Homo sapiens: one gene and its partners. The protein of the gene in region 4 interacts with the protein of the main gene of each other region in a biochemical or structural test. Each region holds a gene or a part of one and is shown on either strand. Other genes may lie near its edges.

Region 1 (4,468 bases), on a different chromosome or scaffold from region 4:
ATGAGCTTCCTTATTTGATTTCAGATCCTCCTAAGGGAAGAGATTTCAGGATTTCCTGGTTGTAAAGTGGAAGAGAACACTTTGCTGAACTTGTATGACATCACCTGAAGCATTAAAAGGGCAGGTGACCATGGGTTCTCTGCCTGTTTACCAAAGCTTCTTTACTTCCTCAATCTATTTTATTTTTAAATGTCAGAGTAGTCTGAAACCTTTCAAAGATATTCAGGCTGCAGAAGCAGAGGAAATATTAGGATACATTCTTTAACTTTTGTGAGAGCTTTTAAATAATCAATGGATGGACTTTTCGAATTGTTATATATCACAGTACAGATATTCTGACATTAAACCATGTGAAGAATAAATATAGTTTAACAACAAAGGGCATGAGGCCATCTCTATTTCTAGGAAGTCTGTGAAATGGCTCTTTAGAGTACAGACCAGAGGCACAAAGAGAGTATTGCATTTCCAAAGAATACAATATAATAAAATTTAGTTTATCAATGAAAATTAGAATATTATACAACAAATGAAAATAGTAAACACAATCTTTGTTTTAAATATATTTTTCAAACTCCACTTGGAAATCCACATATATTATAGAACAGATTTTAAAAATGTAGCTGTTGCAATATTATTTATTAAAAAGCAACAAAATGAGAGCAAATTATATTTAAGCTTATACTATAAAAATATTTTCCAATATACTTAAAACACGAGAGCCACATAGCTAAAGCAAATAGTATTTGAAAGATCTTACACTGGATATGTAATAGACAAGACATTTCTCACTGTAATAAATTAATTTCTTTGTTATACAAAACCCCTCAACCGTAACTTCATGAAGAAATGTGAAGTGGTATGAAAATGACCTTACCTCATATTCAAAGTCTTCTGTTCTGTCTGCATCAGCAGGCAAGCTGGAAATATACTCATTGTCCTCATAAAATTCATGCTCCATTGGATGTAGAGAATGGCAGCTATGGGGAATGTAGCAATATGATAGGAATAGATTAAATGGGTTGTTTTCCAGATTAAAACTGATTTTAGAATTTCACTTTAGTTTGCTCTGCTTTGGAATAAGATCTGTAGTGATCTAGTCTTTAAACAAACTACAGCTGAGGAAAAGCAATAGCTTTTCTTTCTCCCTCTACGTGAAGTCCATCAATTTGCAATTTCTGAGAGAATGCTAGGAATAAGGGCCTATGGTCAGAGTTGTATTCTGTGGAAAGACTGATGTGAAATCTCTGACAGTCCGTGGTGCTTTATTGATACTTTCTGGCCTGCTTCCATTCCACTGAATGTGACAAGCTCCATACGTGGGTGTGTGGCATTTGAGATTGCAGTCTACTCAAAGAGGGGTATTTTGTCATAAAGTACTACCAATTTCATAATCCACAGCTGCAAACTATTTTTTGAAAACCATTTTCAAAAGCACTTATTTTTTCAGACTCTAAAATGTGCTCACATTGTCCCCTCCTCTCTTTCTTAAGATCCCCCTTTCTCACTCTCCCTCATAATGCACATTTTCCCCTCTTTGATCAAGGACATATACACAAATATTAAAGAACATTCATGGCGATCAATCAGTGGAAACTCCTATAAGCCACAAGGTTTCAAAATACCTTTAGAAAATTCTCAGTGACAGAGAGAGCAGATTACATTAAGGAAATGAGAGGATATGGCTTTTATGTATTTCAACTTTTAGGAAATTTTTAAATAGTTTGTAAACATGTTATTCGATTTAGTATGTTCTGATATAAAGACTACACATCATACCATATGAAGACTAAGCATAGTTTAACAGCAAAGAGCATAAGGCCTTTTCTATTTCTAAAAGACACTGAAAAAGCCTAAATACAATTGACAAGTTGGTTGCAGATGAGACCTCTAACTCCTGCCAGTGTGGATCTTTTTGAAAAATTGGAGATAGCAGTATCAATTAGTTCCCTTCTCCCTTGTTGAAAGGCAAGAGACCCATCCTCATGCCCTCATACTATAGTCAGCGTAAATATTCTACCAGCCTCTCCTCACTACTATCTATGGCTGTCAGCTCCACACAGGTCTAACTAGTGTAGGCCAAAATGGTAAAAGTAATACAGGCAGCACCTTGCCTTGTGTCTACCAGATAAATCTCCTTGCTTATAGCTGGACTGGGTCCGCATAGCCCTTTTGGGCTCTTGGAATATCGAAGCCTGCTGCTTTGGACATCTGATGTGTTTCCCTTGTCTTTCGGATAGTAAGAAGGGAGCCCTGCTGTGAGGAACACTTTATTCATTCGACGTTTATTTAGTGGCTGCCAGATGCAAGGCCAAGTGCTGGAAATATGTTGGTTTACAAAATCCAATTCTGCCCTATTAATTGGGGAAAGCAGCAAAGTGGGAATTTTAATACAGTGCAATAATTAAGGGAAAAATACAGGAGCCTTGGGAGCACATGGTAGGGGTGGACCCACTGCAGCCCTAGGAAGTTTTCTAGAGGAGGTTGTCTCTAAGCTAAGGTCTGCAGGACCTAGGAAGAGCAGCAAGATGCACTGGCTAAGGGGGTAGGCATTGGGGTCAGACCTCTTAGGCCTAGAAGCCTGGCCCTGTCACTTTTTTGCTATGTGATCTTGGCCATGTTACTTAATATCTGTTCCCTCATCTTAGACATAGAATGTTGATAATATAATGTACTCCCTCCTAAGATTATTGTGAGAACTAAATGAGTCAATAAATGCAAAACGTTTGGAATAATACTGAAAGCATGTTAAGTTAGCTAATACAAGCTAGCTATTATTATTCATTCAAGGAAGTATTTGTTGGATGGCTACTATGTTTTAGGCTGTATTAATGAATATTATATATTTGTTTCCTTGCTTTTTGTTCAACTCCCCTTGTAGAATATAAACTCTAGAAGGCAGTGACTTTATTTTTGTTCATAGTTTTATGCCAAGCATCTAGTTGCAAGCCCTGACACATCCAATTTGTGTCTGATACAAAGGGCTATTTAAAATAAAGAGATACCCAAGACAAACAGATCCCCTGCCTTCCTGGAACTCGAAGTCTCAAGAAGTGTTTTCAAAACTTGGCTGCACATTAGGATTGCCTAGGGAGACTTTTGAAAATTTCTGATGCCTAAGCCTTACTCTAAGAATTCTCATTTAATTGGCCTAAGGAGTGATTCAGGTACTGATACAGCTTCTGAAAGTTCCCAGGTGATTCTATTGTACATCTGTGACCCACTGAAACGGGCTTATGGGAGCCAGCCATCAAAGGGCAGGAAAGTGGCATGACTCAGATCTTTGTTTTATGAAGTAGAGAGCGGATTGGAGTAGGTGATGAAAATGCAGGCTAAGGAGACTATTGCTCTTACAAACTCTCAATGTTTGAATATTTGCTCGAAAGCTCACAGAACACAATGAATTGGGCAAGCATACTTTTAAAACTGTTCAAGTAGGATTATTTGAATAAAATCTCTCTGACTTCCTTTAAATTAGGCAAAAATCAGGAGGAAGTATTCCTTGAATAGATCTTTATTTGATAGCACTATACTTACTCTCTGACAGCCAAGATCCTTTGTTTATATCTCAATATATTGGGTAAGTGCTTTCGTCAGAGAATTGCACTTTAATTAAATCAATTTCCTAGCTTCTCTTTAAAGAAGAGAAATGCAAGGAAGAGAGAGAGGTGGCCCACAGAGGAGAATGTGGTGCCAAGATGCCACTTCCACATGAGTCTTAATAAGGTTTTTGGCAGCTTTGGTGAGAAAAGTGATTTCCCTGACCAGTGTTCATGAGTAGCATGAGGCTTTTGACAGCTAGTAATATGAAGATGAACTAATCAGAGCCAGAATTTTTCACAGCAGCTAGCAAGTATGATTACCCAGGTGGAGCAACCATGTGGGTCAGGGAGAGTAGCTAGCAGGGACCACTGAGAACTAATTGCACATATCAAAACAGGGGAGACATTTTCCAAACGGAGCTGGGAAGCCTGTCTCCATAACTGTCAACCTGCTAGTGGAACTGCTTCTTTTCAACATCTGCTTTACGTGACAAATGGAAACAAACAGGGCTTTGGAAGAAATGATAGAAAAATACCTGTCTGAGAGCAGGAATGGACAGATGTCTGGCACTGGAGGGGTAGGTGGACGAAGCTTGGCCAGAGCCATGATGTGTTCGAAGGTGATGTCCGTCTGAGTGCTGGCATTCATAAGCTGCACTTCTGAAGCCATCCCATAGGCTGGTCTACTAAGAGGTGTTCGCCTTAACACCTGCACCACAATGGGCTCCTTGGCATTGCGAAAAGCTTCCACTGCCTCTTCATGAGTGGCCTTTGAAAGATCCTTCCCATTGACCTACAAACATATAAGGACATTGTTCATCTCAGAGGAAAGATCAGAGAGGCTGTCATGATAGATTAATAAAAGACAGAGAGAAAGGTTTCAACCAGCCCTGATATGAATTTTGTAATGGAATATTTAATCAGATATT
Region 2 (4,468 bases), on a different chromosome or scaffold from region 4:
TACCCAGGCCCAGTGAGAACTGCAGATGCAGAGTGTTCTGATCTTGTGCCAGAGAATCTGTCTGAAGTGAGGTCAACGAGTCTCCTGCCGTTCCCTTCATCACCACAAATGGGAATAACAGCCATAGCTAGTATTTACAGAGCAGGGACGAGGAGCTGGCAGCACGCTGCTCAGCATCACCCTCACAGAAACTGGATGGGGGTTACTATGAGGACCCTCGTTTTGCAAAGCAGGACGCTGGGGTGAAGGAGGCGGAGGGCCTCGTCTGAGAACTCGCCCAGCCCGCCTCCCACCCAGCACCCTGCTGCTGCTTCCTCTAGTCTCAGCTCAGCCTTTCCTCCGGGAAACCTCTCCTAGCTGTCCCAGAGACTCTGGCAGCAGATCCATGAGGGCAGACAGGGCACACTGCAACCTCACCTTGCAACTGTCACCACTGGCTGCTTGGTTCCTTGAGGTGGTCAGTGTTCACCACCTGCACCGTGGGGCCGCCCAAAGGAGAGGCAGTCAGTTATAAAAATGCCATTTTCCCAATATCAAGCCTCACCTGCAGGTGCTTCTTTCTTTCAGCATATTATTTTGAAACAACAAGGTTCTCCGAAGTTTGGAGATGGAAAAAAAATCTAAATGCAGTCCAGAGACGTGAGCAGTATGAGGTCCCACAATAAGTCAGCAGTAGGGCACCCCTTCCCTTTCAGCCATTAACCTATGTTAGTAATTTATTTTAACATAAAATGATATTATTACTTATAGCGAAACTGGGCCTCAGAGCTAAAAGTTAACCAAAGTTATCATCGAAAGCTAACATGCTCCCTCCTCCTAACAAGATGATGGAGGGCATGCACCGTAACCCCAAGTTTCATTCTGAGGCCACTGACTCAAGCCTCCTTATCACTGAGTCATTTCACTTCTAGTTAAATGACTGGAAGTATCAATATTATTCTTTCTTCAGTATTTAAAAGTCAGAAGTCAATATCATTTAAAGTAGAAAACACAGTTTAGTATTTTGTCTATTAATGCTGATGAAACAATTTTTAATTTCTTTAATCTCCTACTACAGGTTAGAAAACGAACCACATAGTCCTGTAATGACAGAAAAAATTGAAAACTGTATTTTAAAAATGATTTCTCAACAAGACCAGCCGGCCACTCAACCACTTCAGTACCTCGTTTCTGGATGAAGACCCTGAGCAGGGGATTTGCACTAGAAACCGCCTTGCAGAAGTTGTCATCATTGTTGATGGGCAGCAGGTCTCCGTGCACATCTGCATAGCCAATAGTTACATCACTGTTGGAGATATGGTGGGTGTGCACAACCAGCTTGTAGAAATCTTCAAACTTCCCAGGCTTATGACGGTCCAGAGAGAACCTTCGGAATTCCGCCCCAAACTACAATGCAAGAGACGGGGTGGGGGGAGGGGCATTAATAAATACCAGAGAAATATCCAGAAATAAGGTGTGGTTAGTGTACTTAACAAACAAGTATTTACATTCCACATTTTCTTTAATCAATCATCCACTGATAGACACATAAGTTGATTTCATCTTTGCTATTATGAATAGTGCTGGAATGAAGCTACAAATGCTTTTAATACGATTTCTCTTCCTTTGGGTAGAAACACAATAGTAAGACTGCTGGATCCAATGGTAACTCTATTTTCAGTTCTCTGAGATATCTCATACTGTTTGCTACAGAGGCTGATGAATTTAAAATGTTGTATTAAGAAAATAAAAGGACAAGTATTTATTAATTCTCCACAAGGGCCTGGGGAGATAGTGACAAACAGCTCAGTTCTCACAGAGCTCACAGTGACTAAATAAGAAATTATAATACAGGAAGAGGGACCCTAAACAATTAAAAGCAGTAGTGACTCAGGCAGCAGCTCGCTCATCCACAGAGACCCAGGACGGCCCTCTCGTCCACACTGACCGAGGGACAGCTCAGTCATCAACACAGATGAATATCCTGAGGACAGGATAGGACGGGCTGTGTAGCTCATGTTGTAGGAAAAAGCAACGTCAAAATTAATGTTAATTTTTTGGGTGGCATGAAAGGAGAATCCTTCCTCAGCAAGGTCCCTTGCCTCATCTGTGGTTGCTGAAGGGACATCTGCACAGCTTGGGGCAGGGCTTAGGAAACTCAGAGGCAGGAGAGGACGCAAGGCCGGATGAAACCTCGGGACTGTTTCCAAAGGCAAAAGACCATTAAGACCTTACGGGTCTTAATTTTAAGCTAGGAAGTGTCTTCATTTGATTTGTACTTTAGTAATGGTTACATTTCAAAAGGATCAGAAGTAGACATGAAATTGCAAGAATAAAGGAACCTGGTTAAAATCATACAAGTCCAAGGGAGACAGGATGATGGTCTGGTCTTTTTCCTAAAGGCGACATGTACACCCGCCTCAGGAGCTGTCATTAGGTGGTCCAGGTTTGGGAAACATCTAGGGACTAACCTCTTTTCCAGCAGACCCCAACCCTGGCTCAGATGCCCATGAGCTGCCCGCAGAGCTCCAGGATACCCTCCAAGAGAGGACCCCAGGGGGACATGAGGTTAGGGTCATGCCCAAGGGTTCCGGCTCCTGTCATTCCTCACTCGGCAATTCGGGATCTTTATTCATCAGGTGGTACATATACAGTTGAAAACTAATTAGATTGGTTCCAAAATATATACAAATAAAGTAATGTTTATGGAAAACTAGTCATTATATCATCTAGACATTGTATGAATGAGTCAGGGAAGGTCATCTAAGATCAGACGTGTTTGTGCCAGGATCACCTGGAGGCCCCCCAGAGTTCTGGATTTGACTGTGCTGAGGTACAGCCTAAGAATCTGCATTTTAACAAGTTCCTGAAAGAGCTGATGCTATTGATCTGGGGACCACACACAGAGAACCACTGGTTTTATGGGAATCAGCCACTAGACCTTAACCTCCACAGATTCTTTGTGAAACTGAATTGCTCAAGAACAAATCTCCTTTTCTACCTCCCTTTCAAAAAGCACTTCCCCCAGGTTACCAAAAGCAAAACAAACCTCTCATCCATTGTGCACTGCCCTCAGCAATTAAAAAAAAAAAAAAAATCTCCAGGGCCTACAACAATGGGACAATTCAAAATACTGGCTTGGGGCAGGCATGGTGGCTCACGCCTGTAATCCCAGCAGTTTGGGAGGCCAAGGCGGGCAGATTACTTGAGGTCAGGAGTTCAAGACCAGCCTGGCCAACATGGTGAAACCCCATCTCTACTAAAAGTACCAAAAAATGAGCCAGGCATGGTGGCACACACCAGTAATCCCAGCAATCTCAGGAGTCTGAGGCAGGAGAATCCCTTGAACCTGGGAGGTGGAGGTTGCAGTGAGCCAAGATCATGCCACCGCACTCCAGCCTGGGCAAAAGAGTGAGACTCAGTCTTAATAATAATAATAATAATAACAATAGTTTGGGAAAAGCCACTTTCAATGACTAATCAAAGCCCCTCTAACCTACGGTCTACATACTCAGTAAGGGAAGAAGTGGGACCCCAGAACTTGGTATTTGGACAGTTACATGCTCTGAACACGGCTGCACCCTGGAAGGGGCAGAGGAAAGGGCTCTCCTCTATCTCCTGCTATTGTCAGAAGTGCAGAGCAGAGCAAACCCTTGAAATCTCTCCCCGTTATTCAAGGGGAAACGTTCACCCAAGGATGACACTGGTACAGCATGTAGGCGATGCAGATTCTTTCACACACAGGGGCTCCAAAACTTTAAGACACACATGTAAAGCCTACAACATCAGTTTTATGCGGTATCTTTCAGATCACAAAGCATTTATTTCACTAACATCAATCCTTGTCTTTCCCATCTCACATAGCTCATATATACTCACACGGTTTGCATCTGTGTCCCCACCCAGGTCTCATGGTGAATTGTAATCCCCAGTGTTGGAGGAGGGGCCTGGTGGGAGGTGACTGGATCATGAGGGCAGAGCTCTTATGAATGGTTAAGCCCAACTCCAGGTGCTGTTCTTGTGATGGTGAGTGAGTGAGTGATCACGAGATCTGGTTGTTTTAAAAGTGTGTAGCACCTTCCCCCTCTTTTAGTCCTGCTCCTGCCATGTAGGATGCCTACTCCCATCTTGCCTTCTGCCATGAGTAAAAGCTCCCTGAGGCCGTCCCAGGAGCAGATGGTCACCATGCTTCCTGTGCAGCCTGTGGAACCGTGAGCCAATTAAGTCTCTTTTCTTTATAAACCACCCAGTCTGTAGTCTTTCTTTACAGCTATGTGAGAATGGACTAATACATATACCAACTTCCAAAGCAATTTCCTTGTATCACTATATGGCTTTCGTTTAACTGAATACATAAGATAATTTAATCATGTCTAATGCAACTAGTAAGAGTGTTTTTGAATTTTATATAATTCTCACTTCAGTATCACCGCAAAGGGATACAGCTCACTTTCACCTCAGGAACGCCAGGCCTCCCTGAAACAGCATA
Region 3 (4,468 bases), on a different chromosome or scaffold from region 4:
TTCCATACCTTTAAACCGGGCATATAACTCCCCATTCACAAAGCTTTCATGACTCATGACTTGTTTCTCAGTAATCCATTCCCATTTTTCATTCCTCAGAAAATCCTTCATGAGTGGTGTGTGTGCACTCTCAAAAGCGTCTTCCCGAGCAGTTTAATCCAGCTCTCCTCCTAGCCCCAGGTTCCTTTATCTCTCACTATGTACACAGCACCCCTTTTCTTGCCACTACTCCAGGAACCCAGACAAGAATATTCTGGATCAAGGGAGGGTGCCTTCCTCCAGTTTCTGATAGAACAATCCACACATTAGTAGTGGAATGTCATGCTCTCTATATGCAGAGGGAAAGACTACCTGTAACTTTAAACACACTTAAGATCCTGCAAACCAGAATGCCCCGATCACCTGAGGTACATTCTCTACACGCTATAATAAGTTCTGAGTAAGCCAAGACTCAAGGAAATGGAAAACAATGTTGAATCTCTGCACCCAATGCAGAAGAAATACAATGAAGCAAATACCTCAGCTTCAAATGAAAACCAACAAACAAAAAATTCTGATAGAAAGTAAAATGTCACTGTAATAAAATCCAGCCTGAACTTTGTTTTATGAAATATTATAACCTAATCATATATTTCTCAATATATGCTTGAATTGTTGAATAAGACCCTGGCAGTTCTGTAGGGTCAAAGACCGAGTCTGTTTTGTGTCAGAGGGTAACCCAGACCCAATACTCAGGAAAGATATGCTGAATAAATGAGCCAGATTGTCTAGTTTTATCAACATATATAAATATGTGAGTTGATAAAAATAAGCCTAGATCACACCTAAATCATCCTGTACACTCTATATACCACCCTCATTATACCATACAGTATTCAAGTTAGCCATGAAGAAAGCAACTATCTTTTTAAGAATTTATGGTACACACACACACACACACACACACACACACACACACAAATATGAAATGTTCATACCTACACTCACAAGGTCTGAGTTTTTCTGTTTTTTGTTTTTTTGTTTTTGAGACTAGGTCTCACTCTGTTGTCCAGGCTGGAGTGCAGTGGTATGATCATGGTGTATTGTACTGCAGCCTCGACCTCCTGGGCTCCAGTGATCCTACCACCTCAGCCTCCTGAGTAGCTAGGACCACGGGTGCACACAACCACACCCAGCTAATTTTTTAAATTTTTTGTAGAGATGGGGCCTCACTATATTCCCCAGGCTGGTCTTGAACTTCTGGGCTCAAGCAATCCTCTGAACTGGCCTTCCAAAGTGCTGGAAATATTGGCGTGAGACACCATACCTGGCCACATAGGTTTTTTTTCAAGTTCTATGAAGAACACATCTTTCTCAGCAAAATCAAGCTGCAACTCTCATTAATCTCACAGAAATACTTATTATCTACCCCCTCAAGATGAATTTACCATGGAGTTAATGAAACTTAACCTGCAGGGCCCCCAATAGACCCTTCCAAGGCCCCAGGAGAGCACGTTTTCATTCGTTTTTCAAAAGTAAGGTATTGCTATATCCTTTTGTTTCTTTTTTGAGACAGGGTCTCGCTCTGTCACCCAGGCTGGATTGCAATGGCACAAACTCTGCTCACTGCAACCTCCACCTCCTAGGCTCAAGCGATTTTCCTGCCTCAACCTCCTGAGTAGCTGGGACTACAGGCATCTGCCACCAAACTCAGCTAATTTTTGTATTTTTTTATAGAGATGAGGTTTTACCATGTTGCCCAGGCTGGTCTTGAACTCCTGAGCTCAAGTGATCTGCCCGCCTCAGCCACCCAAAGTGCTGGGATTACAGGTGTGAGCGACCACACCTGGCCAATACTGCCATATTCTTTTCTCAGAAGGGCCCTCCCCACCAAACTGTATAGCTTCAAGCCCCACAGAACCCAGATATGTCCCTACACTCCTATAAAATAAGGCTGATCATACTTTTAACGGCAGTTCAAGATTCAGCCCTGTCACACTGTGGCTCAGCAACTTCCTCTCTCAAGATCCTCTTTTCACACCACCATTTACAAATGACACCAACAGGAGACAAGCATACCATGACAATGGACAGCAACATACCGGGGAGAGTAGGGAACAGCAGGCGGAGGAGGAATATAAAGATCCAGGATGGCTGACTTCTCCTTCTTCAGTGAGGTATCCATAGTGCTTTCAGGGGACTGGGTTGTCGCGGGTGGAGGTGAGGTCTGAAACAGGAGTAACACAGCAATGCAAAGAGTGGAGATCAATTCAGAGATGATTCTTGGTGTTTATTTCCCCTCCCCCAAACCAACACCAACCCCGTGTCTGAACAGGGACTGAGGTCATTCATGTGTTTACAGATATTGGCAATATTTAACTTACATTCTTCTTTGAAACCTTAGAATGAGCTGAGGGATTTGAATGACGATGTATAGTGGCAAGAAGCAGAGGCTTAGGAGCCAGGTGCCAGGGTTATGACTCTAGCTCTGAGCAAATCACTTAAACATCTGTGGCCTCCCTTTCCTCTTCTGTAAAGGAGTGATACTGATAATATCTCTTGCATAGAGCTGCAGTGAGAATTAGATGAGTTAGTTCATGAAAATTACTAGCAAGGCTGGGCACGGCGGTTCTTGCCTGTTACCCCAGCACTTTGGGAGGCCAAGGTGGACAATGGATTGCTTGAGCTCAGGACTTCGAGACCAGCCTGGGCAACATGGCGATACCCAGTCCCTACGAAAAAAATATAAAAATTAGCCAGGCGTGGTGGCACACGCCTGTAGTCCCAGCTACTTGGGATGATGAGATGGGAGGATTGCTTGAGCCCAGGAGGCAGAAGTTGCAGTGAGCGAAGAGTGTACCACTGCACTCCAGCCTGGGTAACAGAGTGAGACTCTGTCTCAAAAAAAAAAAAAAAAAAAAAAAAACAAGAAAGAAAAGAAAAGAAAAAGCAATCAGTAGCAGTGCTACTATTGACTAGGAGTATTGCTTGGAACTCTGGATGTGATCCTGGCTAGACTTACTAGCTGCCCATTTTTTTTTTTTTTTTTTTTAAGATGGAGTCTGCCTCTGTCTCCCAGGCTGGAGCACAGTGGCGCCATCTTGGCTCACTGCAACCTGTGCCTCCTGGGTTCAAGTGATTCTCCTACCTCAGCCTCCCAAGTAGCTGGGATTACAGGTGCGTGCCACCACACCCAGCTAATTTTTGTATGTTTAGTAGAGATGGCGTTTTGCCATGTTGGCCAGGCTGGTCTCAAACTCCTGACCACAGGTGATCCGCCCACCTCAGCCTCCCAAAGTGCTGGGATTACAGGTGTGAACCACCACGCACAGCCCTTATTAGCTGTTTATTGTTGAGCAAGTCACACAATGTCTCTGTGCCCCATCTATAAAATGAGAATAAATAGGGACAAGGATAGCACCAACATAGGGTGGCTGTGAGAATTAAGTAAGGTAACACATGTAAACAACTTAGGACACTGCTTTCCCATAGAAAATACACAACCTTATACCGTTTATTTTAGTACTATTTATACATATATGCATTCATATATACGAGTTAATCTTAACTTCAAATCCACATGGCTGAGTTTGAACTATGATACTGGTCTCAAAGGACATGGTTTTTAATATCTCATGTGAGAACTTCAATCTTACCTTCTACAATCTAACAATGACAACAATGATTTTTCTGGTTGGTAAAGAACAGCAAGGAAATCTTGGAGTCAAGGCAGGGAAATATTTGGTGAAGGCCAGTGAGACTGTGCCAAGCCCTGGGCAGACATAAAAAGGTACCCTTAGGCCCAGCGTGTGGGCACACACCTGTAATAATCCCAACACTTTGGGAGTCTGAGGCAGGTAGATCACTTGAGCTCGAGAGTTCAAGATCAGCCTAGAGAAAATAATGAAGCCCCGTCTCTACCAAAAAAAACAAAAACGAAAACAAAAAGCTACCCTTCAACCCTACCCAGCCTGGTTGTAATGGAAGAGATCTCTGAAGTGAAACTGTGACCTGATTCTAAGGATTGAAAGGACTGACTAGCCAGTGTGACGGAGCTAGACATGGCCACCAGGAGATTCACAGAGGACAGCTCATTTTCAGGAGAGATACCAAGTCACAGGGGCAGGGACTGAGCTTTCAGTCTTCCAGAGTAGAACCCCCATATTTTAAACCGTGGCCATTAATGCATAATCTATCAATTCTACTCAATTTGTAATTGATTGACATCTCAACATGTCAATTTCGGACCATATCTGAAAACATGAGGCCAGGATCCAGATTCTCCAAATCTTAGAAGCAAAAGTAAACTAGAACATTTCCACAAAATTGATGCTCCCTGAAAACACACATATTGATAATTACTTCTATATCAGTAACTCTCATTTCCCAGGAGTGTGGCATCAAAACAGAGTGGTGAATGCCTTTTCTATGATAGGACAACAGTAATGATGTTGAACAACTTAGAGCTCTCTTCTGAGAAGGGTGGGTG
Region 4 (4,395 bases):
CCCTGTTCTCTGTAGCCATTCTTGTTTACCACTTTTCCAGGACTCCAGCAATTATCTTTGAATATTAGGCAACTAACATTTTGACCTTCCTCTTGTGGTTTCTCAGGAAAAATCTTCGGACACTGACAGTAGAAGCCTCAGGCTGAAAATTAAGTTCCCCAAATTGGGAAAGAAAAAGGTAGAAGAGGAACGCAAGCCTAAATCAGGCCAGAGTGTCCAGAGTTTTATTGGTAAGTCTCCCCCACAGGCAGAGGGGTCATGAAGACTTCCCCCAACAGCCTGGCTACCTCCCAGGGACCTGAAGCCCCCATTAGAAATGTTTGTGGGAATGGTGATGATGAAGCGGGAGGCCATCTGGGAGTCAGCAGTAAGTGATACCAAGCCATATCTTGGACAAGGTGAGAGAAAGTGATATGGACACTGGTAAGGGGAGAACCTGTGTGGTCTCCATAACATATACAGAAAACAAAAATGCAAACAGGCGGTGATTTTTCTGCCTGATTCACTCCTAAGGGTCAGGAACAGGTTCTGTGGCCTATCTAAACACTTTTGTTCCTGTTATAGTAAGTGGTAGAAAAGCAACATATCTGTATATTTTATTGTTTGAATTTTGGTTCCATTTCTTCTTTCTTCAGAATTGGCCTTAAGCACTATTGACATATCAGTAGGATTCAAAAGAAGGTTCTCTTAGAGTTTTCAGTTGTGCCAATTCTGATGTAAATGGTGGTCCCTCCTAAATTTTGGTCCTAGACAACCTGGAAGCTTGAGAGATGCAGTAATAGTGGACATGGAAAAAAAAGGAACAGGTTCACACCTGTAATCCCAACACTTTGGAAGGCCGAGGCAGGCAGACTGTTTGAGCCCAGGAGTTCAAGACCAGCCTGGGCAACGTGGTGGGACCCTGCTGTCTCTACAAAAAATAAAAAATTAATAGGGCATGATGGTGTGCGTTTGTAGTCCTAGCTACTTGGGAGGCTGAGGTGGGAGGATTGCTTGAGCCTGGGAGGCTGAGGCTGCAGAGAGCTGTCATCATGCCACTGCTCTTCAGCTTGGGCAATAGAGTGAGACCTCATCTTGAAAGAAAGAGGAAGGAGGGAAGGAGGGAGGCAGGGAGGGGGAAGGAAGGAAGGAAGGAGGGAGAAAAAAAGAGGAAGAATAAAGAAAGGACGGAAGGAGAAAGAAAGGGAGCGAAATGAAAGAAAGAAGGAAAGAAAGAAAAAAAAGAAAAAAAGAAAGGGACAGAGGGTAGCAGTTTGTTTTCAAGGAACTAAGAGTTTGCACGAATGCCAAGAGAGAATCTCTTGGATCGAGCTGTATTTTCTCAGGTATGGTCGAACTGGTTTGATTCCTTAAGAGTCTGTCAATTGGGAGACAATAGTGTTTGCAAATATTTCTAAAGACTCTGACAGAGTCAATATCAGTTCCATAAATTATCAGGTTCTGAAAATTCATCCCATTTGTCTTTAGCTCACTTGGTTTCAGCTGGTTTTCCCTGATGATTCAGAGATGGTTAGTACAATAGGAACAAACCAGTCTATCTTCTAACAGACTTTTTGCTCTCTTTTGGGTCCACATACTTGGGCATCTGGCATTGTGCTAACCTCATTATTTCTATACCATTTTTTTTCCTCTGAAGGCAATTTATGGCACCGCAGACATCGTGAAGATGAAGCAGAGGGTGATGATCCTCTAACACCATCGAGATCTCAACTGTAGCCCTTGAAAGCTGGAAGAACTCACAACATTGAGAATTCTACTAAAAAAACTCTCAAAACCTCAATACAGGCTAGACTAAATCATTTCAGAACAAACATGAGCACCACCAAGAAAGACCCTCCAATTCTTTTCACTAATGCATTTTCCTGGACTTAATCTGGTCTCCTTAGAGGTTTACATTTCCTCATTGGCCAAAGGTTCTTGTTCCGAGTTGTCTTGTTCAGTTCTCCTTCTCTTTGTGCATCTTGAGCAACTACAGTATTTATTGGGATAAGCTCTTTATGAATGGCCTGGGATCTATAAAGGATTCAAGGGAGTTCACCTCTTCAGGGAGTTTTGGAATGGTTTTCTCTGACCAGCAGAGAAACTATCAATGCTAAGGAATGAATGAAAGACACACAGACTCCCAGGGAGATGAAGAGAAGGGGGCAGGCAGGACAGCCAGACTTGGTTGTGTGTCTCTCCGAATCCCTGCCAACTGCAACTTGCACCTTCAGGAGATCTCTTCTAGTTGGCTCATTAAAATGAGAACTAGATCCTGGGGGCTTGTCCACTTTCCTGTTAAGATGACCATGTGAAATCTCTTTTTGTAGATATGGTAACCTCTCTCTCTCTCTGCAAACCCTTTGCGTTTTTCTATGTGTGCTTGTATGTCTGCATATGTCCAGGTGGTGCTCTGGTGGGCTCATTGGTTGGAACTCACCCCTCATGGCAACCATACAGGCTCCCCTCCTGCTGCCTTGATCCTAGCCTGCATGCCTCCACGGAGTGTTTGCCTGCATTCTTGCTGGATTTTTTAACTAAATGTTTTGCCGCTGTGCTGCAGTATAGATTATGTATAGAGACATAAAGATGTATATATATATACATACGCATATATATTTTTAAGAGCTGAAAATACAACTCGACCTCTAAGTGACCCTATAATTTATTGTGCTAATCCAGGAATCCCTTCCCACTCCCCCTTACTCTACATAACAATAACACATACACCTCTACCAACTGCCCTATTTCTTGGTGGAGCTTCTAAATCTTTTGGTGCATTTTCAGCGTCTTAGAGGTGGCTGGGATCTATGGCCCAGCTGATTCTGACGCCCCCTTAAAATTCTGAGCCAGGCCATGGAAAGGGGAACAAAAACACCAATGCCCTAAAGAAGGGGTTTAAGCTGGCATGCTGCCTTTTTTTGCTCTATCTGTCCTAGACTCTTCATCAGCAACTGTGCCCTTCCCCAATAAAAAGACTATATGGAGCAACCAGGCCTTGAGCTCTGTGACTTAGATGCCTGAACTAGGGACTGCCTGACAATTAAGTCACAGCCTAGGCCCTTCCCCACAAGCTCCATCTTGGCCTGATCTTCTGGACAGGCTGTTGGGTCAGTCCTCAAGTCACCTTCAAATCTCCCATCTTGCCCTTTTCCCTTGAGTACAGAGGGGCATTGAAGTGATCAGAAAAAACATGGGCCTGGAGAAATGAAGGCTAGAAGCCTGTGCTTTCCTGTGGTTCTTCTTGCAAATTTCTCATGAAAACAAACTATTCCTAAATCGCTCCAAATACTAATTCACATTTTTCAAAAATGCCTTCTCCCAGTCAGGGCAAATCTAATCAAACCCCAATGCCCAGAGAGGTTCTCTCTGGTCAGCCTTGCATCTTCACCCCACCCTTGACTCATACCTTTAGTTAACTGTCCCTTCCCACTTATCAAGAGAAAACTGGCCTCTCCCTACTTCTCAGACAAACTTAGCGTGCTCAATTACCTGATTCAGTCCAATGGCTGGTTCATTGAGGTGCACAATTCAGATTCCAAGCACTGGTTCTCAACTCTGGAACTCCACCAGCCTAACCCACTTAAACCAGCCACCTGTGCTCCACCTCCGCAGGGGTGAGGAGAAAAATATTAACAAGGGGATAGTCCCCAAATGTCTGATTGCTGTGCCAAACTAAGTCCTAGCTCTACAACTAGAGAAGAAAGTCAATGGAAAAAGATGACAGAAAACATTTAAAACTTATTTAAGCATCAGAATGTGTTAGCTTGTTGTACATATTTGAGTAGTGAGTGTGCTGTTGTTGTGTCTTTGACTTTCTCTGTTATTAGTCTTTCTTCCCAGGAGGAGGTATTAGATGAAATCAGCAAGCTCACTATTGCAGCCTGACTTGGCTCCTCTATGGCTGCATGCATTGACACCTGCACACACACTCACAGAGTGGGAACCAAGTTGCATTTTCTTCAGAAGAGCTTTTTCCGAAGGGGAAAATGTCCAAATGAGCAAATTTAGGACTACAGAAGGAAGTCCTGGGAGAAGATAGCTTTATCTTGGCAGTGACTAAGCAGGGCTGTGTCTTATAATTATTTTTATCACTGATGATAGTAAACTGTAATAAGACTCCATCTCTTGTGCTTACTTTGCTGCAATAATTAGGTCTTTGTGCACAGTGATGCTGCTGTTGCTCTGTTGTGCCATGTGGATTCCCTTTCACCTACCCTGTCCTCCCACTCTGAGTCAGAATGATATTGACTGAAACCACTAGTATTTGGGGCTAGAGTCAGCTCATGGAGCACAGTTGATAGATGACAAGGCCCAGGAGCAGGTGTGGCTTGCTCAATCCCTCAGTTACCTCCTAAATTGCTAAGTTACCAGTAGTTTCCCAAAAAGGAAGATAGCTTGCCAAGCACCTGTTCT

Evidence for each region. Proteins that work in one complex are often made in the same cells at the same time.
Region 1: the proteins of DGKK (region 4) and PDZRN4 interact in a test that uses a peptide from one of them, tested with the Homo sapiens proteins (one large-scale study listed by IntAct).
Region 2: the proteins of DGKK (region 4) and PARD6G interact in a test that uses a peptide from one of them, tested with the Homo sapiens proteins (one large-scale study listed by IntAct).
Region 3: the proteins of DGKK (region 4) and CNKSR3 interact in a test that uses a peptide from one of them, tested with the Homo sapiens proteins (one large-scale study listed by IntAct).

The regions. Positions count from the first base shown.
Region 1 is NC_000012.12:41,506,320-41,510,787, reverse strand, and holds part of PDZRN4 (PDZ domain-containing RING finger protein 4), read right to left. Parts: intron 4,333-4,468; coding exon 4,076-4,332; intron 978-4,075; coding exon 875-977; intron 1-874.
Region 2 is NC_000018.10:80,201,547-80,206,014, forward strand, and holds part of PARD6G (partitioning defective 6 homolog gamma), read right to left. Parts: intron 1,387-4,468; coding exon 1,164-1,386; intron 1-1,163. UniProt on the Homo sapiens protein: Adapter protein involved in asymmetrical cell division and cell polarization processes. May play a role in the formation of epithelial tight junctions. The PARD6-PARD3 complex links GTP-bound Rho small GTPases to atypical protein kinase C proteins.
Region 3 is NC_000006.12:154,412,218-154,416,685, forward strand, and holds part of CNKSR3 (connector enhancer of kinase suppressor of ras 3), read right to left. Parts: intron 2,207-4,468; coding exon 2,082-2,206; intron 1-2,081. UniProt on the Homo sapiens protein: Involved in transepithelial sodium transport. Regulates aldosterone-induced and epithelial sodium channel (ENaC)-mediated sodium transport through regulation of ENaC cell surface expression.
Region 4 is NC_000023.11:50,366,261-50,370,655, reverse strand, and holds part of DGKK (diacylglycerol kinase kappa), read left to right. Parts: intron 1-106; coding exon 107-230; intron 231-1,636; coding exon 1,637-1,716; 3' UTR 1,717-4,395. UniProt on the Homo sapiens protein: Diacylglycerol kinase that converts diacylglycerol/DAG into phosphatidic acid/phosphatidate/PA and regulates the respective levels of these two bioactive lipids.